Homo sapiens: one gene and its partners. The protein of the gene in region 3 purifies or fractionates together with the protein of the main gene of each other region. This does not show direct contact. Each region holds a gene or a part of one and is shown on either strand. Other genes may lie near its edges. The genes, in order: CCNYL1, CCNY, DHRS3, CLPX, C12orf75, GNG4 and CYSTM1.

What was found.
Region 1: the proteins of DHRS3 (region 3) and CCNYL1 purify together in Homo sapiens (affinity purification with mass spectrometry; one large-scale study listed by BioGRID and IntAct). This does not show direct contact.
Region 2: the proteins of DHRS3 (region 3) and CCNY purify together in Homo sapiens (affinity purification with mass spectrometry; one large-scale study listed by BioGRID and IntAct). This does not show direct contact.
Region 4: the proteins of DHRS3 (region 3) and CLPX purify together in Homo sapiens (affinity purification with mass spectrometry; one large-scale study listed by BioGRID and IntAct). This does not show direct contact.
Region 5: the proteins of DHRS3 (region 3) and C12orf75 purify together in Homo sapiens (affinity purification with mass spectrometry; one large-scale study listed by BioGRID and IntAct). This does not show direct contact.
Region 6: the proteins of DHRS3 (region 3) and GNG4 purify together in Homo sapiens (affinity purification with mass spectrometry; one large-scale study listed by BioGRID and IntAct). This does not show direct contact.
Region 7: the proteins of DHRS3 (region 3) and CYSTM1 purify together in Homo sapiens (affinity purification with mass spectrometry; one large-scale study listed by BioGRID and IntAct). This does not show direct contact.

What each region holds. Positions count from the first base shown.
Region 1 is NC_000002.12:207,752,573-207,757,339, reverse strand, and holds the end of CCNYL1 (cyclin-Y-like protein 1), read right to left. Parts: intron 3,753-4,767; coding exon 3,642-3,752; 3' UTR 1,166-3,641; downstream 1-1,165. UniProt on the Homo sapiens protein: Key regulator of Wnt signaling implicated in various biological processes including male fertility, embryonic neurogenesis and cortex development. Activates the cyclin-dependent kinase CDK16, and promotes sperm maturation.
Region 2 is NC_000010.11:35,569,767-35,573,692, reverse strand, and holds the end of CCNY (cyclin-Y), read right to left. Parts: 3' UTR 1,026-3,926; downstream 1-1,025. UniProt on the Homo sapiens protein: Positive regulatory subunit of the cyclin-dependent kinases CDK14/PFTK1 and CDK16.
Region 3 is NC_000001.11:12,569,726-12,573,892, forward strand, and holds part of DHRS3 (short-chain dehydrogenase/reductase 3), read right to left. Parts: intron 3,129-4,167; coding exon 3,003-3,128; intron 1-3,002. UniProt on the Homo sapiens protein: Catalyzes the reduction of all-trans-retinal to all-trans-retinol in the presence of NADPH.
Region 4 is NC_000015.10:65,160,876-65,165,642, forward strand, and holds part of CLPX (ATP-dependent clpX-like chaperone, mitochondrial precursor), read right to left. Parts: intron 3,314-4,767; coding exon 3,154-3,313; intron 1,771-3,153; coding exon 1,729-1,770; intron 1-1,728. UniProt on the Homo sapiens protein: ATP-dependent chaperone that functions as an unfoldase.
Region 5 is NC_000012.12:105,336,337-105,341,103, forward strand, and holds part of C12orf75 (overexpressed in colon carcinoma 1 protein), read left to right. Parts: intron 1-4,767.
Region 6 is NC_000001.11:235,583,468-235,588,234, forward strand, and holds part of GNG4 (guanine nucleotide-binding protein G(I)/G(S)/G(O) subunit gamma-4), read right to left. Parts: intron 382-4,767; 5' UTR 372-381; coding exon 273-371; intron 1-272. UniProt on the Homo sapiens protein: Guanine nucleotide-binding proteins (G proteins) are involved as a modulator or transducer in various transmembrane signaling systems.
Region 7 is NC_000005.10:140,195,354-140,200,120, reverse strand, and holds part of CYSTM1 (cysteine-rich and transmembrane domain-containing protein 1), read right to left. Parts: intron 1-4,767.

The DNA of each region.
Region 1 (4,767 bases), on a different chromosome or scaffold from region 3:
TGGAGTACAGTGGTGCGCAATCGCGGCTCACTGCACTCTGCCTCCTGGGTTCAAGCGATTCTTGTGCCTCAGCCTCCTGAGTAGCTAGGATTACAGGCGTGTGCCACCACGTCCCACTAACGTTTTTCTAATTTTATTTCTTTTGAGCCGGAGTTGCAGTGTCGCCCAGGCTGGAGTGCAGTGACGTCATCTTGGCTCACTGCAACTTCCGCCTCCAGAGTTAAGGGATTCGCCTGCCTCAGCCTCCCGAGTAGCTGGGATTACAGGCGTGCATCATCACACCTGGCTTTTTTTTTTTTTTTTTTTTTAAATAGAGACGAGGTTTACCATGTTGGCCAGACTCCCGACCTCATGTGTTGTGATTACAGGCGTGAGCCACTGCACCGTCTTTTTTTGTAATTTCAATAAAGACGAGGTTTCACCATGTTGGCCAGGATGGTCTCAAACTCTTGGCCTCAAGTGATCGACCCACCTTGGGCTCCCAAAGTGCTGGGATTACGGGCGTGAGCCACCGTGCCTGACTGTGATCATTTACTTAAATATTTGACTTTAGGTAATGAAGAATTAAAGTGGATGAAAATATTGCAATGCTATCAGGATTTATTGAGAATTGCTAAAGCTGAGTGGCTAGACTCTTAGTTCTAAAGAAACCTAATAGTGACTTGGTATATTTTTAACTGAAATGTAAGCTTGAAAATAGCACATTAAAGTCAAATTATGTGGCTTAAGACATCCTCTCAACAGCAACACAAATTCTAGTTCCTGTCTTTCCATTCTCTTTCCTGTTTGTCTGAAAACCTCAAATACCTCTTGTTCTAATTCTACGCTATTCCTTTAATTCCTTTCTCTTTGATACATTTTGCTTAATTTTATATTCTAATGTGCTTTTCCCTCTCAGACACGATAACCAACTATTCAAGATGCCATCTAATGCACTATGCCATTAAGTATTGTGGTCAGTGATTTTAAGTGTAATAAATTATCTTCAGGTTGAAAAGAGCATATGCAAAAGAAATGGATCACTACATCTTAACTAGAGGCATGGATCAAATCAACTTATGGTTGGTTTGAAAATGCTTTAAGACATATCAGGATTGACTTAAAACTAGGCTGGGCAGAGATGTAACACTATGTGGATAGAAGTGTTACAAACACACTAGCCATATTTTAATTAAAATAGAGTTTATTAGCTTTTAATATAAACATGAGAAATAAAAACCACATAAATTGTAGCATTCTTTTCAAAATAAAACTGCAATCAATACTTGAATCTCCAAACTCTGAATTCCATAAACAATATTTGTTTTTTTGAGGTGGTAGATTGTAATATTTGTATACCATTATTTATCATTTATGTCTCTGTCCTTTAAAAATGATGGAAACTGCAGCACAATATGATGTGAAGCATTGCTATAATAGAGGAAGTACTCCTGTCCCAGAAATGCTTTGTTTATAAGCAAGATTCCTAGGATTAGATTTGAGAAAGTAGGAGAAACAGATTTCACATAGTTGAGAACACTAACCTCTTCTTAGTATTTCAAATTTAGGTGACATTATCGGTCTCCTAAAATTATTTGCTCCTTGCCTTTTAAAGCCTGAAGAGTTCCTAAGGGTTATGTAAGTATTTCTTAAATAGCAGGACTTAATGGGACACCTACAGCTTGGTAGCATGTAGGATGATAAAACAGCTGTTCATATCACCTTCTATAATTAGGGTCCAATTCCTTTTATTACATGTTAATTAACACTGCTCTTCAAAATCTTCCTTTAAAGAAACTGCGGTAATCAAAGCATATAGAGCACAGCTCTGCGGGTAACTACTTTTAAAAAGAGGGCATTTTATGGAGATACAAGGTATTCCAAAAGTTCAGTGTAATTTTAAGCTTTGATACTTGTAGAAATATAAATGCTACAAACCTTTACAAAACCTTGTCTGAACATTTTTCTTCTGCTTTTTTCTTTGAGACAGGGTCTGGATGTCGCCCAGGTTGGAGAGCAGTGACATGATCATGGCCCACTGCAGCCTTGACCTCCTGGGCTCTACTGATCCTCCCACCTTAGCCTCCAGAGTGGCTGGGACTACAGACACATGCCACCATATCCAACTATTTTTATTATTTTTTTTTACAGGCAGGGTCTCACTATGTTGCCTAGACTGGTCTTGAACTCCTGCACTCAAGCAATCCTTCCACCTCAGCCTCCCAGGGTACTGAGATTACAGGCATGAATCACTATGCCCAGCCCATTTCTTTTGCATTTAATTTTGCATTTTTCTAAGAGATGGGGTCTTGATAACGTTGTCCAGGTTGGAGTGTAGTAGCTATTCCTATAGGCACCATCATGGTACACTGCAGCCTCCAATACTTGACCTCAAGCAATCCTCCAGCCTCAGCCTCCCAAGTAGCTGGGACTATAGGCGTGCACCACCACACCCAGCTTCATTTTGCAAATTTTGAATATAAAGCTTTTAATTTTTTGTTTCAGTCAATGTCTGCTATCAAGAGTGACCGAAACAAAAAATTAAAAGCTTAATATTCAGGAGACAGGTGCCAGTTGCACTTGTAGTCCCAGCTACTTGTGTGGCTGAGGCTAGAGGATGGCTTGAGACCAGGAAGTTCTAGGCTGCAGTGAGTGCACAATGATTGCACCTGTGAAAAGCCACTGCACTCCAGCCTGGACAACGCAGTAAGACCCCCATCTCTTTAAAAACAAACAAAACAAAACAAAAAACTTTCAAATCATGTTTTTTAAAGGTTTATAGCATTTATACTCATGCTGCAGTGCCTTGGAGGGCCCAAACTATATTCAAGCTTAAAACTGCTTCACTTTTTCTCATCGTCACTGAACCACCATGTTGGTTGGCATTATGAAAATATCTTTTAATACATTTATTTAGCAAGAGAAAAATTATCAGAAAATGAGAAGCACCATTTATAGTTCACAAGAAATGCAACATGGACTCCAATAGAAGTAGATATCAATAACTGATACTTCCTCTGTTTATGACCCCAAACATGCTAAAATGCTAAAGTAATGCTTGCAAAGAATATGAATGACAAATGTTATCCAGCAGCTTTTTGGTTTAAAATGATTGCCAATGACTAGCAGCTTCAATGGTAACAGTAGGGAGGAAGAACCCTTCAGTACCTAACAACGCTGCTGTCTGCTCCTAAGTGGCTTTAGTTAGAGTCCCATGTTTTAATGGTAATACTGCATTGATTTTAAAGGCATATGCAGCAAAATGCGGGGGGAGGGAGAGAAACTGGAAGAAACATAAAAGTTATATGGTTAGTGTCTTTAAAGTCTAAAAATTTAAACTATTGTTTAAAAAACCTTACATAGTTCACAGCTATCGGCCCACACAGTAAGCAAATATCTGTGTGTAGGATGGGAGCCTTCACTTTGGAGTGGTTTTTGTAACTCTGTTTACATTAAAAAGGACAGAAGAGTGTTTTGTTGCATTGACAAGGTCCCATTCTTTCCTGTGGAGTATAATCCTTGTTGTCCATGAGTCTCTTGAATTTGAGATCTTTCCTTTTGATGAAAACACTAATTTTGCTGGTTTTTGAGCAGGAAAGGTGGTATTTCTCCAGTCTTTGTAGATGAAGGTCCCATGACGTTATAACCCCTCATTTCTCCTTTTAAGAGAGGATGGCTTTAGAGCGCTGAATACCAATGAAGTTATCAGCACTGAAAGACCTTCTCATAGCGGCTCTACACAAGTCTTTGTCTTCACACAATCTAGAAATAGCCTAGGAAAGTCAATCAAATAGAAAACAGGTACAATTTTAAAAAGGGTTCCCGCCTTTGAAAGAGCACCATTGTGAAAGCCACACATGTGGACTCCTTTAGATAGTTCACAGTTACAGCTACTTTGGCTGAGTTTTACACTGCCAGGTTGTGGGGACACTACTTCCTGACAGTTCACCAAGGTAATATCCTTTAAGGGCTATGGTTAGATTCCCAGAGAACAAAGGGGAATTTATTATATTATTAAAAAACTGGATTCCCAAAGATATCAAAGGTATTGTGATAGGGCTCCTAACAGCAATAGCATCTGTTATCTGTTAACTTATTCCTTAAATATAACAAACGTACACTTGTGCAAAAAAATGTTTATTCAGCTATTCAAATTCTACCCAATCCTTATTAGCTATTATATACTCAAAGCACATTTTAATGAGGCAGGTGTGTGCTGGACTATACTGGAACATATGAGCGGTCTGATGACTGACGCGCCAAAAGGTATTACTTCACATGCACGTTAATTATGGTAGAAATACATATTATTATTTTTTTCTTTTTTTTTTTTGAGGCAGAGTTTCGCTCGTTGCCCAGGCTGGAGTGATCTCAGCTCATTGCAACCTCTATCTCCCAGGTTCAAGCGATTCTCCTGCCTCAGCCTCCCAAGTAGCTAGGATTACAGGCATGTGCCACCATACCCAGCTAATTTTTTGTATTTTTAGTAGAGACAGGGTTTCACCATGTTGGCCAGGCTGGTCTCAAACTCCTGACCTCAGGTGATCCCGCCTGCCTCGGCCTCCCAAAGTGCTGGGAGGAATGAGCCTCTGAGGCATGAGCCACTCTCAGGCATGTGCCACTGAGCCCAGCCTAGAAATACATATTATTCTAAAGTACCACCAAGGTACCACAGAAAGTGTTAGTTTAAAATATGTGTCCATTTCAGTTGTAATTCTGCTGTATACTCACCAAGAGTCATAAGCCATAAATATTACTTTGCCCCATAAAGTTACCATTTCTATTAAA
Region 2 (3,926 bases), on a different chromosome or scaffold from region 3:
TTGGCTTGAAATCCATGCAGCTAAAGACATAACACCCTGGGAGGGTGAGGCAGGAGGAGCACTTGAAGCTGGGAGTTGAAGACCGGCATGGGCAACACAGCAAGACCCCATTTCTATAGAAAATTTAAAAATTAGCCTGGCCAGGAGCAGTGGCTCACGCCTGTAATCCCAGCACTTTGGGAGGCTGAGGCCGGCGGATCACTTGAGGTCAGGAGTTTGAGGCCAGCCCGGCAAACATGGTGAAACCCCATCTCTATGAAAAATACAAAAATTAGTCAGGTGTGGTGGTGTGTGCCTGCAGTTCCAGATACTTGGGAGGCTGAGACAGGAGAATCAGTTGAACCTGTGAGGCAGAGGTTGCAGTGAGCTGAGATTGCACCACCGCACTTCCAGCCTGGGCGACAGAGTGAGACTCCATCTCAAAAAAAAAAAAACAAGTAAATTAGGTGGGCATGGTGGCACAGGCCCATCGTCCCAGGGAGGCTGAGGCGGGAGGATCACTTGAGCCCAGGAGTTGGAGGCTACAGTGAGCTATGATTGTGCCACTGCACACCAGGCAGAGTGACAAAGTGAGACTCTGTTTAAAAATATATATATATTTAAAAATAAATATATATATAAAACCCAAGTTAAGTATCCTGTTCCTGTCTCAGTGCAAGAGCATGTTTCTTGTTTCCTTCTCTTTTTCAACAAGGGTAGGACCTCATCATGGCTGACTTTTCAGAAGATAATGTCTTTAAGACCCACCCAAGATGCTGACTCCAATGACATCAAGGGAGATAAAGTGGTTTCAGACAAAATGGGGTATCAATATGAAAGTGACATGTTCTATTAGGTCTCTATTGTGCAACTTCTCAATTGCTGGAGTAGCTCTCATACTTTTGTGAGTCGCTCAAGAACACAGGGCCAATACCACTTTCTACCACTGCTCTTGCAAAGAACTGGTTCACTCAGCATCCATAAAACCTGTTGAATTTTATCTCAATATACTAACTCAAAAAACACAGCAGGAAGGCAGGCACTACTTTGTTCTATGTATATATTTATTTAACATTTATTAAATACCTACAATAACCAAGAATCATGTTTTATTTTTAAAAAATTTCAAATCTGGGCCAGGGGCAGTGGCTCACGCCTGTAATCTCAGCACTTTGGGAGGCTGAGGGGGGTGGATCACTTGAGGTCAGGAGTTTGAGACCAGCCTGGCCAACGTGGTGAAACTCTGTCTCTACTAAAACTACAAAAATCAGCTGGGCATGGTGGTGGGTGCCTGTGATCCTAGCTACTCGGGAGGCTGAGGCAGAATTGCTTGAATCCGGGAAGTGGGGGTTGCAGTGAGCCCAGATCGCACCATTGCACACCAGCCTGGGTGACAAGAGCGAGACTCCATCTCAAAAAAAGAAAAAAAAAAATTCAAATCTGTAAAATATGGCCCCAGGTGAGAAGTTACCAAAAGCAGCAGGAAAAGTTTAAATCATTCACTCCCCAAATTTTGCTTTCAGCTTAGCTTAAAGGAAACCCCAGGATGGAGATGGCTCTGCCCAAGCCCGAGAGCAGGCAGACAGGAAAGCCAGCCCAGAAGAGGAGGCAGGTACAGGTGCCCACACCTCTGGCCTCACCTCATGCATGAAGGCACATCCCGATCTTGGCAGGATTTCTCATCTGCCCTCCAATTTGGTTTTAAACTCCTGACTTCTTCTTTCCCTTTTTCTAGTTAAAAAAAAAAAAATAAGAAAAGTAAAACAAATCAAAAAGATTCATCGGGATATATATTTATTGTCCCAATGACTTTATTTGTTGTTTAAATCAAATATAAAATTAAAGTAACAAATTGTGTCGTTTCCTTCATCCTTAATGACAAAAACTTTCCATTCAAAAACTACACTAAGACAATGTGTTCCTCAATAGTAATCCAGCTTTAATTGTAGAGCATTAATTCGCCTTACAAACAAATTACAGTCACTACGATTTATCAGTAAGTACTGTACTGGTTTTGTGTTTTCTTTTGGCAAACTTTGAACAAATCAGAGAAGAAAACATAACTATTCATCATCATGTAGAAAAAGAAAAGAAAATGAACCTCAAGTATCTACCTATGTGTCAAGTGATTCATCCTGCCAGTAAAACTAAAATCTACACTTACAGCGGAGTTTTAAACATCCTTAGTGCAAGAAACATAACCAATTAATACAGATCAACACTAATTAATGAATATGGAAAATTTTCCTATACAGAGGTAGAATCCAGGGCACAGGCTAAAACAGTATTCAGTAGTCTAAACAAGACTTGAGTCTGGTTTTATGGAATCCACTTTAAATTTTAGGTATCAGACTGTATGTACATACATACAATAAATAGACTATACAATTTTTTTAAAGTAGTTTAATAAACTCCACAAAATAATAGCAGATGCATTGAAATATTTACATAATTCGATTTTCAAATCTCTCATTCAAATAAAAGGGATAAAAATAAAATTTCTGCCTTTACGGCAGCAGAACCTCTTTCCTGAAATGGATTGGTAAAATAAGATACTTCACTGGAGAGGAACTAATTTATGTTTAAGAGGTATTCATATTCAGCTAAGAAAATACAACCCTTTTTCAGCTATATAGATTAGGGAATATAAAATGATATTTTCTACATTTTTTGACCTGTATTCAAAGTTCTAAATTCAACTTTGACTTGAAGAGAGAAGGTGATTTTGGTACCCATACAGAGTAGATCATCACAATTACAATGGAAAGATAATTAACGTTTTATATGCTGTTTATTTGCTTTTGAAAGTTTGGGTCAGAAAGGCTGTGATAATAATTCTGGCCCAAACAGGTATGCTTATACCTGACACAAATTTCACTAAAACCTAACACTTTTGGCTTGGAGTTCTTGGGATTTCGACTTTCTGAGTCCCTTCCATTTCCAAAGCATGTTTCATTGAGAGCAGGCAATGTTTGGGGATCAGGTGTATGATTCAAGACTAATTAAGATGCCAAAGTTTTCCAAGCTCACATGGGAAGAAGGTGAAACACAGACCTGCTGCTGCCACTGGCCTCCCAGAGACTTGAAAAGGGAAACAACTCAGAAACCTGTCACTGTGACCTAAGAAAATATGCAAAAACCCAAAGCATTACATATGCAAGTGACTCACACTCTTAGATTTCATATCAAATTCACTATTTGATATTCTATCATCAACTTTCATTTTACTTGATATAAAAGATTCTTATTGAGTCCATAAGGAAATCAGGGATCGTCAGAAAATGAAAAAGTATGGTCATAATTAATGAAGCATAAACCTTCACAGTTTGAATTTTGTAGAACTTCTCTAAGCACCCACAATGAAAATGCAAGTTGAGTTTTTTTTAATTCAATCATTCTGTGAAAAATACCTCAGTAAATAGTAACATTTTTCCCTTCAATGATCTTCCCACTGGAATACCCAACCCACCCTTGTTTTTTTTCTTTTTCTTTTAGATTTTTTAAAAATTTTATACAAATAGACTAACTTTGATTTAAAGTAAACATATAAAAATTGAGAAGAATATTGCTTGCAACAATGGACTTGGAAGGAGAGGAATGGATTAGGCAGGGGTACAAAGAAATGGCTCCTACTCGGTAGTTCCAGGCACATGCCCAGCACTCTGCAGAACTCTCACAGGGACACCCTCTGCTGCACCGTGTCCTTCAGCCCACAAAGTCTGACTGATTTTGTAACAACAACTTCAGGTCAGGAAAAAAACAAATGCAAGAAAATCGGAAGGCACAAGCACCCATGTGATCTAGAATGTTCTTGGGGTGAGGAATAAGGAGGGAAAGGGATACTTTTGGTTCAGCACTACAGTCAATTTCGCCATTGTTGAAGAAAAACGGTATAAAATAAGGGTGTACAGAAATGGAACAAGCACAGCCCACTGGTGAGGAAGAAA
Region 3 (4,167 bases):
CGCCTAATTTCTGTATTTTTAGTAGAGACAGGGTTTCGCCATGTTGGCCAGGCTGGTCTTGAACTCCTGACCTCAGGTGATCTGCCTGCCTCGGCCTTCCAAAGTGCTGGGATTATAGGCGTGAGCCACTGCGCCCGGCCCTTTTAGTTATTTTTAATCGTACAATTAAATTATTATTAACTATAGTCACCCTGCTGTGCTATCAAAGACTTGTTCTTATTCGGTCTATTTTTTGTACCCATTAAAAACAAATGATGGTTAGGTGCCACTAAGTAGGTGACAATGGCTTAATCTGTCTGTGCTCCTTGTCGAGGGGAGTGCTGACCTTCTCTCCCTTCATACAACACACTTTCAAAACCAGGCTCTTAGCATCTTGGTGCCCACAGGCAGCTCAGAGATCCATCGATCCCAACTGCCCCTGATTCCACAAAGATGACGGTGTGGATCTGAGGAATCAGGTTCGATTTGGGTGTCACATCCTCTGGGGAAGCGTCCTGGGCTCACCTTCAGGCTTCTCCTCGTACAACCGGAGTTCCGACGCTTCCCCAGCAAGCCCTGGTGTAGTCCCCACCCGTTTACTTGTCAAGCCTGTGGGGGCCTTCATGGCGGGTATTTCATCTCTGATCCCCAGGCCCTCACATGGGCCCGGCACAGAGAGGGCCCTCAGGCTGTTTGGTGACTCAAACTGAAGGGTCCTGGCCCACTCTAAGTACAAGATGAAAAGGGTTCACTTCCAGCTGGAGCAATCTGGAAGGCTTCCTGGGGGTGGTGGTATTAGAGTTGAGCCTTGCTTTCTCCTGGGGAAGGTGAGGAGGGATGCAGTTCAGAGAATGGGGAGCGGGGTGGCTCCTGCTTCCTGTTCAAAAGTAGTTGTGGGGAAGGTTGGAAAATGAAGGCTGAGGGCTTACTGTGGAGAGCGCTGAGGTGTTCTAGACCAACTTTTCTCTAGAAAGCTCTGGAAGTCTTCTAAGAAGCTCCCCTGAGGTGGAGGGTGGCAGCCTGACCTCAGTGAGGACCTGAGCCCCTGATCAACTAGGGGCTCCTAGAGACGGCTGAGGAGCATCTCAGACCCGAGGTCAGGATGGACTGAGGGAGGCCGAGGTGTGGCCTGGATGCCCCTGGGTGCCCCCTTCCCTGTGCCTCTGAAAGGGCTTTGAGTTTGGGGAAGAGAGGGCTGATCGGGCTTGCGCCTCAGTTTCGAGGTTTCTGTGCCCTGCATGTGTTGGGGCAGCCCCTCAGCTGGGGCTCACCATGTCCCAGCAGCCAGGGCAGAAGTTGGCTTTCCTGGGAGTGCATGTTGCATGAGAGCAGGGGCCAGCCTGGCACTTGGGGGCTTACCTTCCTGAAAAGGACTTCCAGGTCAGAGGGGCTCAGTCAGGAGGGGGCCAGAGCCCCAGGGGAGCCAAGAGCCCATGGTCACTTGTGGCACCAGGGACAAGGATCTCCTGCTGTACTAAGAGGCCCAAGAAAACTGAGTGTGGGACTGGGATGGGAAGGATTTGCTGCACAAAGCCTGGAAAGTTCTAGGGGAATAGGATGCCAGGCAAATTCTGGAGGAGGAGTCTCTCATTTATAAAGCCTGCCTCCCCAAAGTGGTCTGCCCTGCTACATCCCACCCGACTGGTACTAAGACGCTTCTGTGAATTCTGAGCCCTTGGCATCAAGATCCCCATGTTCCCTCTAATAGTAAACTTCCTGAGGGCAGGGGCTATGTCCAATAGGCTGTAGAACAGTGGTTCTCAAAGTGAGGTCCAGGAACCTTTGGGGTACCCGGGATCTCTTCAGGGGTCTGTGAGGTCAATTTTTTTTTTTTTTTTTTTTTGAGACGGAGTCTTGTTCTTGTTGCCCAGGCTGGAGTGCGGTGGTGCGATCTCGGCTCACCTCAACCTCTGCCTCCTGGGTTCCGGCAATTTTCCTGCCTCAGCCTCCCAGGTAGCTGGGATTACAGGCACACGCCACCACACCCAGCTAATTTTTTTTGTATTTTTAGTACAGACAGGGTTTCTCCATGTTGGTCAGGCTGGTCTCGAACTCCCAACCTCAGGTGATCCACCCACCTCGGCCTCCCAAAGTGCTGGGATTACAGGCGTGAGCCACCGTGCCCGGCCACATTGTTTCTGTAATAATACTAAGATGTTATTTGTCTTTTCACTTTCATTCTCTCAGTGAATGGTAGAATTTTCCAGAGGCTACGTGACACGAGATATCACAACAAATTGAAATCAGATGCACATATAAGAATCCAATTGTCTTCAATTAAGCCAAACAAAGAGATTTGCAAAAAGGTAGAACAATGCCACTCCTGACTACATTTATTTTGTTTTAGAATACATAACTAGTTGTCATAAAAATATATTTATATTAATGTAATGGGTTTGTTATAGCTATTTATAAATGAATAAATATTATAAACAAATGTATACAACTTACAACATTTTTCTGGCTTTTAATTTCTTTTTTGAGATGGAGTCTTGCTGAGTCACCCAGGCTGGAGTGCAGTGGCACGATCTCGGCTCACTGCAAGCTCCACCTCCTGGGTTCACACCATTCTCCTGCCTCAGCCTCCCGAGTAGCTAAGACTACAGGCGCCCACCACCATGCCCAGCTACTTTCTTTTTGTATTTTTAGTAGAGACAAGGTTTCGCCATTTTAGCCAGGATGGTCTCAATCTCTTGACCTCGTGATCCACCTGCCTCGGCCTCCCAAAGTGCTAGGATTACAGGCGTGAGCCACTGCGCCTGGCCCTGGCTTTTAATTTCTAATATAGTAAATAGCGATAGCTACAACTCACATTAACAAAAGCTCTTTGGGTTCCTCCATACTTTTTAAAACTCTAAGGGGCCCCGTGACTAACAAGTTTGAGAACTGCTGCCCCACAGTAAGTACAGTACATCAGCAGCAAATGTGCCAGCACTCCTCATGCTCATGCCCGCAGCAGACATGACTAATAGATCACATGCGTACTTTCCCCTGACCCAGAGTGTTCTTTCCCAGCCCCATACCTTTTCAAGATAACGAGGGCATGCATTGTCCATGGGAGGAGGAGGAGGGCCTGGTTGAGCTGCACAGCTTCCACTGTCCTCCGGGCCACCGTCTCCGGCTTCAGTGGGGGAAAGAGGTTGGGAAACCTGAACACAGGAAGAGACACAGTGGGTTTCTCCTGGAGAGGCATGTGCTTATCTGGAAGTCTTTATGAGGCTGACATGTCTGGGTCACCCTTTGGCTTTTCCTGTCTGAGAGATTCGAGGCCTGCTTGGAATACTCCCTCTACCCCACACCCATCCAGGTGCCACATTCCCTCACTCCTCCAGGCACACAGGGGTCTCTTCTTGAGTCAAGGACTTCTAGCCCACCCACTGGGGACCCACTCTCCCAAGCCCTCCAAGGGCTCCCAGTGCCCTAGGGCTTGGCCTTTCCATGGCCCTGCGTAATCTGGGCCCTGGTTGTCCTTCTGAGTCCTTTTCCCTACACTCTGCTCCTTCAGGACAGGCCCATTTCTGTTCTTGTCACATCACATGCTCGGGTCAGGGCTTTTTGCCAGCTCTCTCAACAGCCTGGCTCTCTCCTCCCAGCTCCTCCTTTGGGAGACATTTCAGGCCAGTCCATCCAAAGCGACCTCTGATCCTGTCCCCTGCTAATTTCCTTGACCGCGTTCACCCCACCTAGGAAGACCTTGCTTTTTGGGTTGTTTCCTTGTCAGTGGCCTGTCTCCGCCATCAGGCAATGAGTTCCATGAGGGTGGAGGCCTGGTCGGTCCTGCTCCCCTGCATCTAGCACAGCATCTGATACATAGTATGTGCTCAATAAATACTTGAAGGACTGAACACACTGATGACTTGCTGCTTCCCAAATGTGTCCTGCTCATTCTGTCTGGAGGCAGGGGCTTGGCTAGCGATGGCTGGGGCTCAGCTTGCTGGTTCACTAACTCACTCACTGATTCATTGATTCAAAGATTTGCACAGTGCTTTCCATGGGATCTCAAAATGAATGAATGAATGATTGCATAAGCAAACATCAGGGGCTTCTCATGACTATTTAAAAGCATCTGACCCTAGATCCAAACAATGATGATGTTCCCTACGTGCCAGACTCATGTACAAATTATTCTCCTGATTTACAGATAAGGAAACCGAGGCTGTATTGAGTCAGTAGGGCGCTAAGGATTCA
Region 4 (4,767 bases), on a different chromosome or scaffold from region 3:
TCACTGTGTAAGCACAGCTCTCTAAAATGAGGACCATGAGCAAGCAGGCTAGTGTAGTAGTTAGCTGCACAGAGCTCACCAGCTGTGTGGCCACGGACAAATTACTTAAAATTTCTGTGTTTCAGTTTTCTTACTTCTAAAATGGAGATAAAAATAATAGTTTCTGTCTCATGGGTTTAGGGGAGATTAAATGAATATATGCAAAACACTTAGAACAATACCTGGCAGATAGTTTTATAAGTGTTACAGAAGAATCTGGTATTATTATTACCATTTCCCTAGTGTTTAATTATTCACACAACACAGCCCTTAAACGCAAACAAAGTATTTCATCTGGTGCTCAACTTAAAAAACAACATTATATTCCAAAGATGGAGAAAAAAAGCCAATTGTGTCAGTCCTCCTAAAAGCTGTATGTTGGTCTCTAAAATTTGACTTCCAAAGGGACTTATAAGAATTAATCTTATTGTACATGATTTTGGTCTAAAACCCTAGACCAGTGTTAGGGTCTAACACCCCCAGCCAGTGTTAGTTAACAACCTAACTTTAGAACTTAAAATCCCATGTAAAACACAACAAAACTGCACATGACAATAAATTTAAGCTTTTGAAATATTTGTTTCTAAGTCAATCTTTTACATAAGTTCTTAAATACTGTTACTTGTTAACATTTAAATAACATTAAATCACTACATATATTACATGACATGTCTTTCAAAATATGCACTACAGACTTTCTTTACTAATTTAGTATAGGTTAACTAGCTGTCAACACAATTTATGAGTATGGTATTGACTGCATATCTGAATATATTTTTTTATTATGAAATAAATTACATATATACCTAAAGGTTATTATTTAGATTTTACATTCTTATATACAATCTAATTCTATTGCACTTACTGTATTTCTTAATTTTACCACGCATGGTATAATCAGTATTTCTATAAATTTAAAAATAACTGGGGATAATGTAATTTTATTACATGTGATAAATGTCATGCCCAAGTTGGTACACAAGTTATATTCTCATGGCTCATCCTATATATAGTACACTTCAAATAGTGGATATATAATACTACTTGGTTCAAAGGCAAATGTAAAAACATCAAACTTAGCTAATTTTCTTTATTTCAATTACTAAAACAAAAGGCCATGTGAATCTTTCTATGACACCCCTGGAACCTCCACCCTCAATGCAGCAACTAACTATATCCACCTCCAAAGGAATAGGTGGAACACAACAGAAAGGCCACTCTCCTTGGTCTATCAAGTCCTTCCACACCCTCCATCGGACCATCTGATGCTTGTAGGGGCAATCTGGGGCTGGAAACAGTGAATTAAGACTTACTCATAATTTGTAAGACTGTAAGTTTCATAAATACAAAAAAAACCAAAAAACAGTGTGCTTTCTGGCAAAGAGTAGCTAGAAAATAATCTGCCTCCCCCAAATTCCTGTGACCCACAAGAAGCAGGCCAACTCTAATTGTAGTTTGATAGAAAAAATAAAAAATAACCCAACATATGGAAACGACACAAATTAGCTATGAAAAACTATTCCAAAGTTATATATACCATGTAGGATAAACACATTTAGATAATACGTATCTTTCTTGGTAATACACAAGCAAATACATACATGTCTATCACTGTTACTGCTGAAACACTTCACTGAAATAAATGTCAAAAGGAAGAATGATTACAGAGGAGGACCTGAAGTCACTTACTTGTAAATCTGTACTCATCCTCCCGTCTTCTTATTTCTAACTCTAAGAAAGAGGATGAAAATATTACATATTTGTTTACCTTGGGGGAACAAACAATGAGTATCCCACCTCCTGTCCTCTTTCAAATATATTTAAAGGATTTGTTCATTAACATTTTTCAGCTTTTCATATATGCTATATCTTTTCTATATTAAAACAAAACCATGCATAAAGACCGCTGTCCAGTTGCTAATATTCACATTTGTCAAATATATAATTGATATCTATTGTAAGGGTATAATAACATAAGTCTTTAATAAGAGTTTAAGCCCCTCATGCTATAAATATTATAACCATTTGCTCCTCCAGCACTTAGAATAGCTTAAATATCTATTTATTACCGAGGAAAACAAAAAAGTTTTGCTCCATAACTATCAGTGCTATTTGGACCTTATAAAAATGAAGATTTCAGGCCAGGCGCAAGAGTTCACGCCTATTAATCCCAGCACTTTGGGAGGCTGAGGCAGATGGATTGCTTGGGAGACTGAGGTGGGAGGATCACTGGAGCCTGGGAAGTTGAGGCTGCAGTGAGTCGCAATCCAGCCTGGGTGACAGAGAGAGACCTTGTCTTGAAAAAAAGAAAAAGGTTCCAAGTCATCCGTTAGTTATGACTTATACTTTCTAAAAATAACTGATACCATCACATACCTATTTTGCAGTTATGTGATGTAAGTTCAGCAAGTGAACAAGTGTCTTCATTGAAATAAATTATACATTTAGTTGCTACTAAAGGCAATCAAAGATAATGTAGACTTATAAATTTAAGTACTTAGCAGAACTCCTTCACACTGTACAGTGATAACTAAAAGAATCTAAAATGATGGAATATAGGCCTAAATCAGAAATTGGGGCTGTCTGGCCAACAAAACAAAAAATTAAATATTCATATTTACTCTATGCATAATTGTTTTTAATAAATCATTCTATTAATATACATTATTGTCCATAGTAAATTGAGATTATACAGTATACTGTATAATGACTACAGCCATGTGCCACCCCACCTGGCTAATTTTTGTATTTTTAGTAGAGACGGAGTTTCCCATGCTGGCCAGGCAGGTCTCGAACTCCTGACCTCAAGTGATCCCCCCGCCTCGGCCTCCAAACGTGCTGGGATTACCGGCATAAGCCACCATGCCAGGCCTAAGAAATAATATTTACCTTAACTGTAAGTTAATGTATTCTGTTATTTTCTATTCATATCTATCAAATTTTTAAAAAATGCTGTTGGCAAATGATTTCATAACACACTAATGGGGAATAACCTGCACTTTGAAAAATGCCACACTATATAAAAAACATTTTAAGAAGAAAGTGAGGAGTTACAAATAAAGATTACTTTTAAGCATAGCAATCTCTATTTAGGTCAATTATCAAAAACGCTACCTCTTGGTGTTAATGATGTCTGCTTCTCAACCTCTGCTTGCTGTCTCAGATTAGCTGGGATATTATTATATATTCTCTTATAATGATTGTACACAGCAACTGAAAGCACCTTCTTAGCAAATGACTGGCCAACAACATACTTGTCGAGGTAGTTATAAATCTGAAAAATGATTAGGTATGAATAATTTAATATGAGCTATTATAAGAGCACACACATTAAAAAGTTATTTACTAAGCATATTTGCTTACAGTTTTAAATCTGAACAAAGACTCTCATTAAAAACAAAATGACAATACATTATATAGCAATGATTCAGAGGCCCTGAACACTAAATGAACAAAAACACAATTCATTTGTTCTCTAGCTTAACAAAGTATCACTGTACTCTACTAGTGTTGTGCTAATTTCTATTCTATAAACAATGCTATCAATCTTTATTTTTTGATAACAAATTAAATTTAAAGTAACTTAGAATACATACACATGCCACCATGGTCTAAAAGTATCAACATTAATGTAAATCATTAAAATAAATCCATACCTGTCAATCAAATGAATAACATTCTTCACAAAGATAACATTATAAAACTACTCTTTTCAGAAACAGGCATTACATAATCAAAAGCCATTATACTATCAGTATCTATGTGTTTTAGTAAATTTAATTTTTTCTCAGACATTAACTTTAAAGCTACTCATTTATCTGAGACTCTAAAAACTGTATTCTTATTTTTTTTTATTTTCTAAAAATATATTTTTTTCTTTTTTTGATACAGGGTCTCACTGTGTCGCCAAGGCTGGTCTTGAACTCCTGGGGCTCAAGCAATCTTCCTGCCTTGGCTTCCCAAAGTGCTGGGATTACAGGCATGAGCCACCAAGCTCAGCCCTAAAAACTTTATTCTTAATAGTAGCTAAAGCTCTATTCTACAGTTGGTTATTGCCAACAGCTTGGAACCTGGGGTAAATTTTTTAAGTTTTTAGTGAATAGAAATGAAATGGTTGGTGAATTAATATTAACCAACTCCTGCCGGGCTTGGTGGCTCACGGCTGTAATCCCTGCACTTTGGGAGGCTGAGGCGGATGGATCACTTGAGCCCAGGAGGTGCAGACCAGCCTGGACAACATGGCAAAACCCTGTCTCTACAGAAATTAGCTGGGCATAGTGGTAGACACCTGCAGTCCCAGCTACTGTGGAGGCTGAAGTGGGAGGATCACTTGAGCCCAGGGAGGTTAAGGCTGCAGTGAACCATGAGTGTGCCACTGCACTCCAGCCTGGGCAACAGAGTGAAACCCTGATTAAAAAATAAATAATTCAAAAACTCCTGAAATTAGTTAAACTGCCTGGATTTTTTTTTTTTTTTTTTTTTTTTTTGAGACGGAGTCTCGCTCTTTCACCCAGGCTGGAGTGCAGTGGCGTGATCTTGGCTCACTGCAAGCTCCGCCTCCCGGGTTCACGCCATTCTCCTGCCTCAGCCTCCCGAGTAGCCAGGACTAAAGGCACCCGCCACCACGCCGGGCTAATTTTTTGTATTTTTTTAGTAGAGACGGGGTTTCACCATGTTAGCCAGGATGGTCTCGATCTCCTGACCTCATGATCCGCCCGCCTCGGCCTC
Region 5 (4,767 bases), on a different chromosome or scaffold from region 3:
ATTTGTATGACCTTGGGCAATTTGCTGAGGCTGTCTGTTCCTTAGGTTCCTTGACCATAAAATGGGGGTGTAATAAGAGAGCCTATTGTAGATTCAGTGAGTTAATGTGTGTAAAGTGTTTAGAACAGTGACTCGTATATTGTAAGTACCCAATATACTACTTGTTATCAGTATAGGGAAAGACACAGCTGGTGTAGAAGGAAGGCGTGAGCCACTGAAGGCGTGTACGTATAGAAGTGGCATCATTCACAGCTGCTGTCTGCGCTCAGAGAAGTGCTGAGGGCCTGGATCATGGCTGTGGGCCCTGAGGGGTAGAAGCGTTGAGGTCACAGATACGTGGAAGACAGTTGAGCTAAAGAGAGGCTGCAGATGTGGGATGAAGGAAGAGGGAGAGGTAAAAATTAAACTGTTAGAGCCTGGGTAACTGGAAGGAGGTTGCTACTCACTCTAAAAGTAAGGTAGTAAGGGGCAGGTGATCAACATACTCGACTGTACCATGTTTGAAGTGATGATGAATAAAGAGAGGTGTGGAGACCCCTCTGCTCAGGTAGTAATCATTGGTGAGACAGAACCAAGAAGCTCTGTGCATCATTCGCTTGCTGTGTCTCCCCAGAATTGATGGCATCCAAAGCGAGTGATTGATTTCTGCCATTGTCACAGCCTGGTAGGTTCTTTTTGCCCACTGCCCCAAACAAAACCAGCACGGGCCGGGCACGGTGGCTCACACCTGTAATCCCAGCACTTTGGGAGGCTGAGGCAGGTGGATCACCTGACGTCAGGAGTTTGAGACCAGCCTGGCTGACATGGCGAAACCCCATCTCTACTAAAAATACAAAAATTAACCAGGCGTGGTGGCGCACACCTGTAATCCCAGCTGCTTGGGAGGCTGAAGTGGGAGAATTGCTTGAACCCAGGAGGGTTGCAAGTGAGGCTGCAGTGAGCAGCCTGGGTGACAGAGCAAGATCCTGTCTTAAAAAACAAACAAACAAACAAAAACCAATGAGAACAGCAGTTTTTGTGGCAAATAAAGAGTTTAATCATTTCAGGGCTGGCCAAGTGAGGAGAGCAGAGAGAAATTTCTCAAACCTGTCTCTCTGAGAATTCGGAGGCTAGGGTTTCTTAAGGGGACTCTGGTAGGCAGGGGGTTACTGGGGAATTGGAACAATTGATTGGCTGGGGATGAGGTCATAGGGGCATCTAAAACATCTTTGGGCAGTAAAGTCAGTTCCCAGGAAAGGGTTGGTTCTCAGAACCAGGTGGCATCTCTTGATCTACCAAAATGTGAAATCTGAAAACTATGTCAAAGGCCAGGTCTTTAGGTTTCACAATACTGATGTTATCTATAGGAGTATTTGGGGAAGTTGGAAATCTTGTAACCCCTGGTTACGTGACTCTAGTGCAGTAAGCAACTTATAGGAAAGCATGCTAAACAATAGCGGGTCATTGTTTATGCCTATTTTTTAGTAAAGTTTAAGCCCCTACCAGAATTTTAACCTTGCCATATGAATGCAGCTTTGATCTTTGAACAAGGATGGGGTATGGTGGGGGGTGGGGTCAGTTTTCCTTGCTTCAAAGTGTAACTATAAACTAAATTCCTCTCATAGTTATCTTGGCTTCCATGTTAGAGTAAGAGAAAAAAAACCTATGAAATTAAAAGCAAAGCAAAATAGAGTCAGTTATATTAAATTTCTCTCATTATTTATAATTCAGCAAAGGCAGTTTTACCATGAGCCACTTATAGCTCCATATAGACATGGCTTAAATTTTATTATATCAGCTAAATGTCAGTGCACTAACTTATGCCTGTACTTCTTATATGGCTGCATTTATCTTTCATTTATTTATTTATTTATTTTGAGATGGAGTCTTGCTCTGTCACCCAGGATGGAATGCAGTGGCATGATCTCGGCTCAGTGCAACCTCCACCTCCCAGGTTCAAGAGATTTTCCTTCCTCGGCCTCCCGAGTAGCTGGGATTACAGGCATGCACCACCGCACCCAGCTAATTTTGTATTTTTAGTGGAGATGGGGTTTCACTGTGTTGGCCAAGCTGGTCACAAATTCCAGACCTCAGGTGATCCACCCGTCTTGGCCTCCCAGAGTGCTGGGATTACAGGTGTGAGCCACTGCGCCTGGCCATTTTTTGGTTTTTACTTGCCTAAAGTATAGCTGCTTGTCTTAGTTCATTTTTGTGTTGCTATAAAGGAATACCTGAGACGGGGTAATTGATAAAGAATAGAGGTGTATTTGGCTCGTGGTTCTGCAGCCTGTACAAGAAGCATGGCACCAGCATCTGCTTCTGCTGAGGGCTTCAGGCTGCTATCATTCATGGTAGAAGGTAAAAGGGAGCCATAGTGTGCAGAGATCACATGGCAAGAGTGGAAGCAGTAGAGAGAAGGGAGGGAGGTGCCAGGCTCTTGCTAATGACCAGCCAGCTCTCATGGAAACTAATACAGTTAGAGCCCACTTGTTACCACCAGCCATTCATGAAGGATCTGCCCCTATGGCCCAAACACCTCCCATTAGACCCCACCCCCATGAGATTTGGAGGGGACAAACAAACCAAACTCTAGCACTACTCAACAAGGACGACCTATAAAAATGAGATTTTCTATAAGAGCTTCCATTTTCATTGACATAATTTTATGTCAATATATAATTTTATATTTCTAGGACACATTGACCTGAATTTTTTTCCTCCATTATTTGAAGAAATCACTTATGAATCTGTATTTTTTTATTGCACTCTGAAAAATAAGCATTGCTTTGGATGAAGTAATGAGCTGTTGTTCCATTTCTTTTGGCCAAACCAAGACTATGACATAGTTTTATAACTATTGTGGGTCAGAAGAGCATAGCAAGCTGTCAAAATTAAAGAGAATTTTATTTATTTTTCTGCAGTTATATTTATATAGTTCTCGGAGGGACTGTTTCTTTTCTAAAACAAATAAGGAGTAAGACATTCTTGCATGTTTTTATTATTTCCCATAAGAACCATAGGCATTTATGTTTCTGATAATTTATGCTGAAAGAAGAGTGCTTTTTAAATCTTCAGTATTTTTTTTTTTTTTTTACAAATTCTTCACATACATAATTTTATTTCGGGTGTGTGTGTGTGTGAATTATCACCACTTGGTTTGAAGAATGTAACTTAATATGTAACTTAGCAATTCATTTACCTGTGAATATTTCTAGTATATTTTATAAAGTCTAGAGTCTATATAGTATGGTGGTCATAAAAGGTATTAATGGACTAAAATGTATATGACCTTTTCTTTCTTTCTTTCTTTCTTTTTTTTTGAGACGGAGTCTTGCTCTGTCACTCAGGCTAGGTGCAGTGGCGTGATCTCCGCTCACTGCAAGCTCCGCCTGCCGGGTTCATGCCTTTTTCCCGCCTCAGCCTCCCGAGTAGCTGGGACTATAGGCGCCCGCCACCACGCTCAGCTAATTTTTTGTATTTTTAGTAGAGACGGGGTTTCACTGTGTTAGCTAGCTAGGATGGTCTCGATCTCCTGACCTCGTGATCCACCCACCTCAGCCTCCCAAAATGCTGGGATTACAGGCGTGAGCCACCATGCCTGGCCCTTGTTTCTTTTAAAAGATAAAAGTATGTTCTTCATAATAGACTTTGGCATTTGGGAGGAAATACTCACATCAATAAATGTTTGAATCTGTATAATACTGAAGACATGCTGGACAGTATGATTCATGGTTTTTAATGTATACGACAGGCTGATTAGCTCTCAAAGGACCATCTGTCTGTAGGAACCAAGATATTGTGTCCATCTACTTAAAATTACTCAATGCAGGTGGGGCGTGGTGGCTCACGCCTGTAATCCCAGCACTTTGGGAGGCAGAGGCGGGTGGATCACAAGGTCAGGAGATCAAGACCATCCTTGCTAACACAGTGAAACCCCATCTCTACTAAAAATACAAAAAATTAGCCGGGCGTGGTGGCATGCGCCTGTGGTCCTAGCTACTTGGGACGCTGAGGCAGGAGAATCGCTTCGACCTGGGAGGCGGAGGTTGCAGTGAGCCGAGATCGTGCCACTGCAATCCAGCCTGAGCAACAGAGTGAGACTCCGTGCCCCCGCCAAAAAAAAAAAAAAAAAAAATTTACTCAGTGCAGTATCTTGTAGCTGGCTTGTGTTATCATTCACGAGGAATAAAGTTCCGTTTGTGTCGTGCATGATACATATATTACATTTAGTTTCCCTCCAGATACTCATTTTGCTCTGTATTTTAAAAGAGAGTATTTTTTGGAGACAGGGAAGGACAAAGATAAGAAGGTCTAGTGGGTTGAATGGTAGCCCCCAAAAAGATATGTCCATGTTCTCTTTTCTGCAGTGAGTGAATGCAACCTTATTTGGATAAAGGATCTTTGCAAATGTAATAAAGTTAAGGGTTTTGAGATGCGGAGATTATACTAGATTATCTGAGTAGGCTCTAAATCCAATGAGAAGGGTGTTTATGAGAGACACAAGATGAGAAGACGGACATAGAAGGGAAGGTGATGTGAAAATGGAGGTGGAGCAGAGATGATGGGGCCACAAGCCAAGGAATGCTTGCTGCACCAGAAGCCAGGAGAGGCATGGAATGGGTGCTTCCCTAAGGCCTCTGGAAGGAGTTTGGATCTGCTGAGACCTTGATTTTGTACTTCTGGCCTCCAGATCTATGAGTGCATAGATTTCTGTTGTTTAAACCACCCAGTTTGTGGTAATTTGTTACAGCAGCCATGTGAAACGAAGACAATATTTTTCTGCAGTAG
Region 6 (4,767 bases), about 220 Mb from region 3:
CAACGGAGCTAAATAGAGCCGAGATGAATTATGAGTCTATTTTTGGAGACTCCTTATGGAATTCATGCACACTGTGTATTTTGCATCCTTTGAATCCTTGGGCACACTTAGAACTGTGAAGCAAACACTCATTTGTAAATGTTACAGCTGCCAAGGTTGGCTGCATGCTCTGCTGGGTGACGTGTTAACTCTCACAAGTCTGCTTTGGAAGCAGGAGGAATGTTTTGAGCTGAGCTTCGGGCGGAGGGTGGGGCTGACGCATGCATGCTTACCTTGACCCTGTCCATACAGGCTTCCATCTTTAGCTGCTCCACAGCTTTCCTGGCTTGGGAGATGCTAGTGGTGCTGTTATTAGACATGCCCTCTTTCATTCTACTGCCCCTAGAAGTAACCAAAGTAAAAGGGTTAGAAGAGCTGCTCTTCCAAGGGTAGGGGAACCCCACCTCCCACCACCTACAGCTTCTCTGTCCAAGCCAGGGAGCATCTGGGAGCATGGACAGCATTTGGTAGAAAACCCTCCTGGGATAAGAGAAAGGAATGCCTCATTCGAGTAAGAGGAGCAAGACATGATGCTTTTGTTTGGAAAAACTTTCTCAGTCCCGGGGACAGTGAGAAGAGAACAGAAGGTTCCAGAATGACTTTTCCATCACCCCCACCACTGCCACCACCATCACCACCACGACCATAAGTAATGCTTGGACATTCGTATAGTGCTTTGAGTCATCATTCACTTTCACACACGTTTGCTCATTCATTGCTCTAGCAGCCCATACAGTTGGTGGGACAATATTAATTTCTATTTTGCAAAGGAAGAAAGTGCAAAAATCAGAGAAATTAAACCAATAGCCAAAGATCCTACAGCCAACATTTGTGGATCCAGAACTCAAACTCAAAGCTTTGAAGCCTAGCCGAGTGTCTCAAATGGCCTCTCCTAACAATCTATGGCTCATAACACACATTTCTAATGAATAAAATTGCTTTATTAATTTTAATTTGTTGTCCTTCCAAAAAGTTTACAGACTTTGTGTTGAGAGTTTGTTTTCAACAATAAACACACGCACAAACACACACTCTCTCTCTCTTTCTTCCCTATCCCAAGCATAGATTTATTTTCTAGAGGGAGGCAGAAGAAATTCTCCCTAACCCTACACACATTGATGCCCCGTGACTAAGACCAGTGTAGTGCTACCTGTTTCACAGAAAGCATGTGCTACACACATCACAATTGCAATTGCCCCGTCTAATGAGAATCTGCTTCAAAGGAAGCCTAAAACTAAAGCCTGAGAGCTGGGGACAGGTCACTGAGAGCAGAAACACAAGTGACACTGGCTCCCAAAGGTACAGATGAGGTGGGAAGAGGCCCTGGCCACCATCTATTATTCGTCTGCTTCTGTTTATATTTTATTTCAGTTTTAGGTTTTTTTCCCACCTCACAACTGTTGGACTTTATTGTATTAATTTAATTGAGTATGTAAAGCAGCAACCATACTTTCAAAGTTAAAATGATGCAAATTGATATTCACACAGGTGTCACTTTCACTGCCCATTCCAATCCTTTTCTCCCCTCCCACCTACCTCCTATGGGCAACCAATCACACTGGACTCCAGTCTATTCTTTCCTATGCTTCTTTTTTCTCCTTCCTTCCTTCCCTCCCTCCTTCCCTTCCTCCCTCCCTCTGGTCTTCCTTCCTTCCCATCACGTTGGACTCCAGACTATTCTTTCCTATGCTTCTTTTTCCTTTTCCTTTCCTTTCCTTTCCTTCCCCTTCCCTTCTTCCTTCCTTCCTTCTTTTTGAGATAGGGTCTCTGTCATCCAAGCTGTAATGCAGTGGTGCAATCACAGCTCACTGCAGCCTCAAACTCCTGGGCTCAAGCGATCCTCCTGCCTCAGCCTCCTGAGTAGCTGAGACTACAGGTGTGTGCCGCCATGCCTGGCTAATTAAAAAATTTTTTTTTGCTATGTTTCCCAGGCTGGTCCTGTGTTTATTTTCTTAGAAAGTAAGCAGTTACATATATGTTTTCTCATTTCTCCTTCTTTCTTACACAAAAAGATAACGTGTGTGTGCTTTTGAACTTTGTTTTTATATTTAGCAATACATTTTAGAAAGCACCACATATTAGTTCACTGATATGCAAAAAAGATCATACTCATTCTTTCTTAGAACTACATACTACAGTACTCCACTGTGTGGATATACTGTATATTTTTCAATCCATATATTTACGGGCATTTACATCTATATTCTCATATTATTGTGGGGGTGTGTCTTCAAGGTACATTTCTGGAATTACTGGGTCAAAGGTAAATGCATATTTACTTTTGTGATATATTACCAAATTCTATAAGGTAACATTCTGATAATTTTTGCATCAAGATTCTTAAGTAATTTTGGAATTCAGTACTATTCTTAAGTAATAAATTAAGTCATTTAATGCTACCTTCATCTGGTTTAAATATCAATGTTATACTTGCTTCATACAAAACATTTAGAATTTTTAAGAAATTTTCTATTTGGCCAGTAGGTTAGTGTATGGGACCCACTCTCTCTGTGGGTTTTAATCACATATGAACTAATTCTCTGGCCCAGAAAGGCATAATGGCAACTACATTTGTCCAAAGGCAGTTTTTGAAAAGTAAAATATTCTCGTTAGAAGACAGATCAGCCACCCAAATCAGAGTTTAATAGATGTGTGTCCTTATCTTAGTTTGGAACTTTAACTCAACAACAAGGGAAGGAGAATCACGACAAGTTGGGAGCTTTGAAATCCAAGGAACATCCCCTTCATCCCCCACTCAGCAGAACTGTGCACGCGTTCCTGCACATGTGTTGGTGTGTCCTTGGGTGTGTCTGTATGTGCCCACGTGCCTGCTCGTGCAGGCCTTGTGCCAGTCTGTGTGTGGCCATCTCTCCGTGTGTGTGTGTGTGCTGATGTGTGTCTGCGTTGCTGTGTGTCTACACAAAATGAGGGAGGAGACACAGTCTAGTTCCCAACCCTTCCCAGCTGATGCAATGAAAAAAGGACTCTGATGTGATTTGGATGTTTGTTCCCTCCAAATCTCATGACGAAATGCGATTCCCAATGTGGGAGGTGGGTCCTGGTGGGAGGTACTGGATCACGGGGCCAGATCAGTCAGGAAGGGCTCAGCGCCACCCTTTGGTGATAAGTGAAAGTCACTCTGAGTTCATCCAAGACCTGGTTGTTTAAAAGTGTGTGTCGCCTTCCTGCTGTCTCTCTTGCTCCCACTCTTGCTGTGTGATAGTATGGCTCCCCCTTCACCTTCTGCATGAGTGGAAGCTTCCTGAGGCCTCACCAGGAACAGATGCTGGCTGCCATGCTTCCTGTACCACCTGCAGGACCATAAGCCAATTAAACCTCTTTCCTTTAGAAATTACCCAGTATCAAGTATTCCTTTACAGCAACACAAAACAGCCTACTACAGACCCTACAGTGACTGCCTTCAAATCTTGATCCTGCTCTCCCCATTCTAGACTCCATCCCTCTCGCCCCTTGTCTTTGACTTGGGCATTTAGGAGTTGGGGGAGGTTCAGGGGAGGAGGAGGTAGAGTTTGGGATCAGCAGGGGTGAAGCCAAGAGGACATGGAGCAGGGCAAAGGGAGGAGGGGAGGGCTCTGCACTGTGTGTGAGGGAGTCTGTGGTGAGTAGGAGTGTGTGAAAGTGTGGGGTGGGGGTGAGCGTGTGAGAGTGTGTGGGGGTGAGTGTGTGTGACAGAAAGTATGTGTGAGGGTGTGGGTGAGTGTGAGTGTGTGAGGTGGGGTGTGTGTGATGACAGTGTATGTGAGTGTGTGTGAAGGTGTGGGTTGGGGTGTGTGTGAGGGTGAGGGGTGTGTGTGTGTGAGAGTGTGAGAGCATGTATGAGGGTCAGGGGTGGGGTGTGTGTGAGTGTGTGTGTGAGCACGTGTGTGAGCATGTATGAGGGTGAGGGGTGGGGGTGTGTGTGTGAGGGTGGGTGAGCGTGTGTGAGGGTACAGGGTGGGGGGTGAGTGTGAGAGTGTGGATGGGGGGTGGGGGTGTGTGAATGTGAGGTGGGTGTGTTGTGGGTGTGTGTCAGGGTGTGGGTTGGGGTTGTGAATGTGGGAGGGTGTGGGGTGGCGGTGAGTGTGAGTGTGGGAGGGCATGGGGTGGGGTGTGTGAATGTGGGGTGGAGTGTGAGTGTGGGAGGGTGTTGGGTGTGTGTGTGACTGTGGGGTATGTGTGCGAGTGTTGGGTGTCTGTGTGTGAGGGTGTGTGTGGGTGTGGGTCAGGGTTCAGGGTGGGGGTGAGGGTGAGTGTGGGAGAGTGTGGGGTGGGGGTGTGTGTGTGTGTGAAGGTGAGAGTGTGAATACAGGCACGTCTCAGAGCATGCGGGGTGAACGTGTGTGTAAGTGTATGGAGTGTGTGAGAGGGTGTGGGGGGTGTGTTTGTGTCTGGAGTGTGAGTGTGTGGGTATAAGTGTGAGTCCTTGAGGATGTGTGCACATGTGCACAGGTGGGTCATGTGGCGGGGAGGGAACAGCTAACGTTACCGGGGAAAGCAGCAGAGCCGACTCTCAGTCCCGTCAGGCCCCTGCAGCTGCGCCCACCTCTCTCCCTCCCAGGCGCTGTTCAGACGGCCCTGATCCCTCAGCCCTTCCTCATTCTTCCGCTGTTCAAAAGAAGGGCTCGTTTTCCACATGCCCTACCCTCTCCGCAGAGGAGAGTTCTGGCTGGAGGCTTCCTGTGGGAAGGTCCCACCAGCGCACTGTGCTTTCCTTGTTGTGCGCTGGAG
Region 7 (4,767 bases), on a different chromosome or scaffold from region 3:
ACTAAAGAGCTTCTGCACAGCAAAAGAAACTATCATCATCCCATATGTAGGCAACCTACAATATGGGAGAAAATTTTTGCAATCTATCCATCTGACAAAGGGCCAATATCCACAATCTACAAGGAACTTAAACAAATTTATGAGAAAAAAACAACCCCATCAAAAAGTGGGCAAAGAATATGAACAGACACTTCTCAAAAGAAGACATTTATGCGTCCAAAAACATATGAAAAAAAGTTCATCATCACTGGTCATTAGAGAAATGCAAATCAAAACCACAATGAGATACCATCTCACGCCAGTTAGAATGGTGATCATTAAAAAGTCAGGAAACGGCTGGGCACCGTGGCTCACGCATGTAATCCCAGCACTTTGGGAGGCCAAGGTGGGCAGAACACTAGGTCAGGAATTCAACACCAGCCTGACCAATATGGTGAAACCTCATCTCTACTAAAAATACAAAAATTACAGCCATGGTGGCGCATGCCTGTAATCCCAGCTACTCAGGGGGCTGAGGCAGGAGAATCGCTTGAACCCCGGAGGTGGAGGTTGCAGTAAGTCAAGATCGCGCCACTGCACTCCAGCCTGGGCGACAGTGTGAGACTCCATCTCAAAAAACACAAAACAAAAACAATAAAAAGTCAGGAAACAATAGATGCTGGAGAGGATGTGGAGAAATAGGAACACTTTTACACTGCTGGTGGGAGCGTAAATTAGTTTAACCATTGTGGAAGACAGTGTGGTAATTCCTCAAGGATCTAGAACCAGAAATACCATTTGACCCAGCAATCCCATTACTGGGTATATACCCAAAGGATTATAAGTCATTCTACTATAAAGACACATGCACAGGTATGTTTATTGCAGCATTATTCACAATAGCAAAAACTTGGAACCAACCCAAATGCCCATCAATGATAGACTGGATAAAGAAAATGTGGCACATATACACCATGGAATACTATGCAGCCATAAAAAAGGATGAGTTCATGTCCTTTGCAGGGACATGGATGAAGCTGGAAACCATCATTCTCAACAAACCAACACAGGAACAGAAAACCAAACACCACATGTTCTTACTCATAAGTGGGAGCTGAACAAAGAGAACACATGGACACAGGGAGGGGAACACCACACACTGGGGCCTGTCGGGGAGTTGGGGGGCTAGGGGAGGGATAGCATTAGGAGAAATACCCAATGTAGATGACGGGTGCAGCAAACCACCATGGCACATGCATACCTATGTAACAAACCTGCACATTCTGCACATGTATCCTAGAACTTAAAGTATAATAATAAAAGAAAATGTTCTGGAATTATGATAGTGGTGATGGTTGAAAAACTCTGTTGATATACTGAAAACCATTGGATTGTACAACTTTAAATGGGTAAATTGTATGGTACATGAATTGTATGTCGAATATACCAAAAAAAGAGGGGGAGGAGGAAGGTGATATCTGTTCCCCCTCCTGTTGAAAGTGACTGGCCTTGAGACTTGTTTTGAATACTGGAATAAGGGGTAAGTGATGCTGTGCCAGTTCTGGGCCTAGCCCAAAATCCTGGCAGCTTCCACTTTCACTCTATTGGAAGCTAGTTGTCATGTAAAGCAGCTTAAGCTAGACCACCTAATGATGACAGACTATGTGCTGAGAGAGGCCTCGTGGAGGCAAACCAAGACCCTACTCATGTCAGTGAGGTCATCTTGGATAGCCTACACCCAGACAGGCTGACAGCTGAATTAAGTAACAAGAGTGACCCCACGAAAGATCACACGAAGCAAGAAGAGCCTCCCAGCCAACTCAGAGAATCATGAGAAATAATAAATCATTGTTGTTTTAAGCCAGTGAGTTGGGGGTGATATGTTATACAACAGATAACTGAAACAACCTTTCTGAGTCTCAGATTCCACTCCTATAACATGGGACTGATACTATGGGGTTGTTGTGAAGATTACATAAAGCTAACACCAAGCATGGTGCTCAACAAATACTAGTTGTTATTCTTAAAAACCACCCAGGAGATCCTTGACATAATCTGCAGGTATGCTCTTCTGGGAGACCTTATTCCTACAAGCACTTGCTGCTTCCAATCACATGGCTTCCAAAAGGTTGGCTTCTTAAAAAAACAAAAGGTGGGTTTTTTTGCTACAATCTCTGACACATGAATTCTAAAACATAAACAGATGACCAAGGAAGGTTCTGCTTAGGTTAGCCATCTACCCGACCCTGCTCATCCATTCATCACACCTTTATTAAGCCCTAACTAATTACCAGACGCCAATTAAGGATAAAGGAGATCCTCCCTCCTTTGAAAAAGAAACCATTTCTACCTATGTATCCATTAACATAATATGCCACACACTTGAACTTGAGTGGAGAGAGTATCTACAGTAGTAGATAAATCTAAAATCATTCAGCTGGAAAGAAAAAGCTTAAATTTCCATATAGAGCTCAGATACACAGCATGAGAACACATAATTCTGACTGAGAATCCCACAAGCAATACCAAAGCAAGGAATAAAATGGGTCCCTAAAGGGTTCATCACTCAGTGAGGCTACATTCTTCCAAGAGTCCCATTCACAGAACATGGACCCCAGGTGACAAAATTTGACCATTTGGCACTACCTGCTATGTTTGGGTGCAGAAAGGATCTGGGCAGTTAATAATTCACAAGCTAATGACAGAGAAATAAATTCCTGGGTATATCCATAGGAAAGGATATTAAACAGCTTTCAACTGCATTTGTGAAATCAATCGTGATTGGTAACACTGAACTAAGGAGCCTTTTAACCCTAAAAAGAATTAAGAAATTATTTTTCATCAAAAAGGCTGACATCAATACTTAAATTACATGAAAGGTAAGAAAGATGACCAAATCTGTATTTTCTGCATGAACAGTGGACAAAGTCCACTGAACCTAGGAAGCACTTATTCTAAACAAACTCAATAAAGTTCTAAACTCATCAAATGCTAGTTAGAGAGTCAGTATAAACAATATTGGCCTAGAAATGGACAGGAAGACCATGAGGGCTATAGGTGAAAGACCTAACACCAGGCAGGCATTGGGTTGAGTCTACCGGATAACTCAAATGCTGGGCTATCTTTCTCTGCTGACATAAAACGTACAGCAAAGTACACAAGTCATAACTATCTATCTTGAAGAATGTTTATATCAAGATTAAGATACAGAATATTCCTAACACCCCAGAAAGTTCCTTTGTTCCTAACCCAATGAATAACCAGTCCCACCCTAGTTTCCCAACTCCACAGCCAGGAGTAACCATTATTTTGATCTCTGGCATCATACATAGTTTTTGTCTGTTTTTGAATTTCACATAAATGGAATCATACCATATGTAGTCTTTTCTGCTTTCTTTTATTCATCACAGGGTTACCTTATTTTGAAGCAGAAAACCCAGAAGCTGAGGTTTATTTTCAGAAAATGTTTCTCTGATGTCACAGGCCTGAATACCAACTACTCCGATTATACTGGTTATACTTCCTGCCCTCTTCCGAGCATGCATGATAAAAACTGTTACAACAGAACACAATCTTGGATTGCAAAAGCTTCCTTCCAGATAAATTAAATTCTTTAAAGGTATTCAAATATTCTATTCAATCTTAACAGAGTATAAGCTTTGCCACTATAAAAGTATAATCTTTTCCATGAATGCAAAATTCTTATTCTAGAGAATCATCAAGTCCTAGAATAAAATTAGCCATCAATTCTGTTATTACTTTTGATTAGTAAAGAACTAAATGACAGGAAAATCTCTAAGAGGAAGCATAAGTCACTAAATTCAGATGAATGTGAGTCAGCTCAGAAAAGGCAGGAGAGGAACAACAGTACAGCAATAAATTATAGGTACAGATTTTGAGGCCAAGCTATCAGGATTCTAATCTAGAAAGTGCCCCTTCTAGCTAGGTGACCTTGGGCAAGTCATTACTCTAACTTTGTACCTCTATTACATCACTATAAAATGGGAATAACTTCATAGGATTGTTGCAAGGATTAAATGTTAATGTATATAAAGCACTTAGGAGACCATGTGACACACAATAAGCACTTTTTTTTTTTTTGAGATGGAGTCTCACTGTCGCCAGGCTAGAGTGCATGGTGTGACCTTGGCTCACAGCAACCTCTGCCTCCCAGGTTCAAGCCATTCTCCTGCCTCAGCCTCCTGAGTAGCTGGGACTATAGACGCGTACCACCACGCCTGGCTAGTTTTTGTATTTTTAGTAGAGACGGGGTTTCACCATGTTGGCCAGGCTGGTCTTGAACTCCTGACCTCAGGTGATCTGCCCGCCTTGGCCTCCCAAAGTGCTGGGATTACAGGCATGAGCCACTGTGCCTGGCCATAATAAGCACTTTTTAAGAATTAGCTATCTTGGCCAGGCACAGTGGCTCACGCCTGTAATCCCAGCACTTTGGAAGGCCAAGGGGGGCGGATCACGAGGTCAGGAGATTGAGACCATCCTGGCTAACACAGTCTCTGCTAAAAATACAAAAAATTAGCCGGGCGTGGTGGCAGGCGCCTGTAGTCCTAGTTACTCAGGAGGCTGAGGCAGGAGAACGGCGTGAACCCAGGAGGCGGAGCTTGCAGTGAGCCGAGATCGCGCCACTGCACTTCAGCCTGGGCAACAGAGTGAGACTCCGTCTCAAAAAAAAAAAAAAAAAAAAGCTGAAAGGGCTAATTAAGAGAGCAGCTATTCTGCCAACCAAAGGGCTACAAAATAGTGACCAAGACATCTAGCACAGTGCTCCTC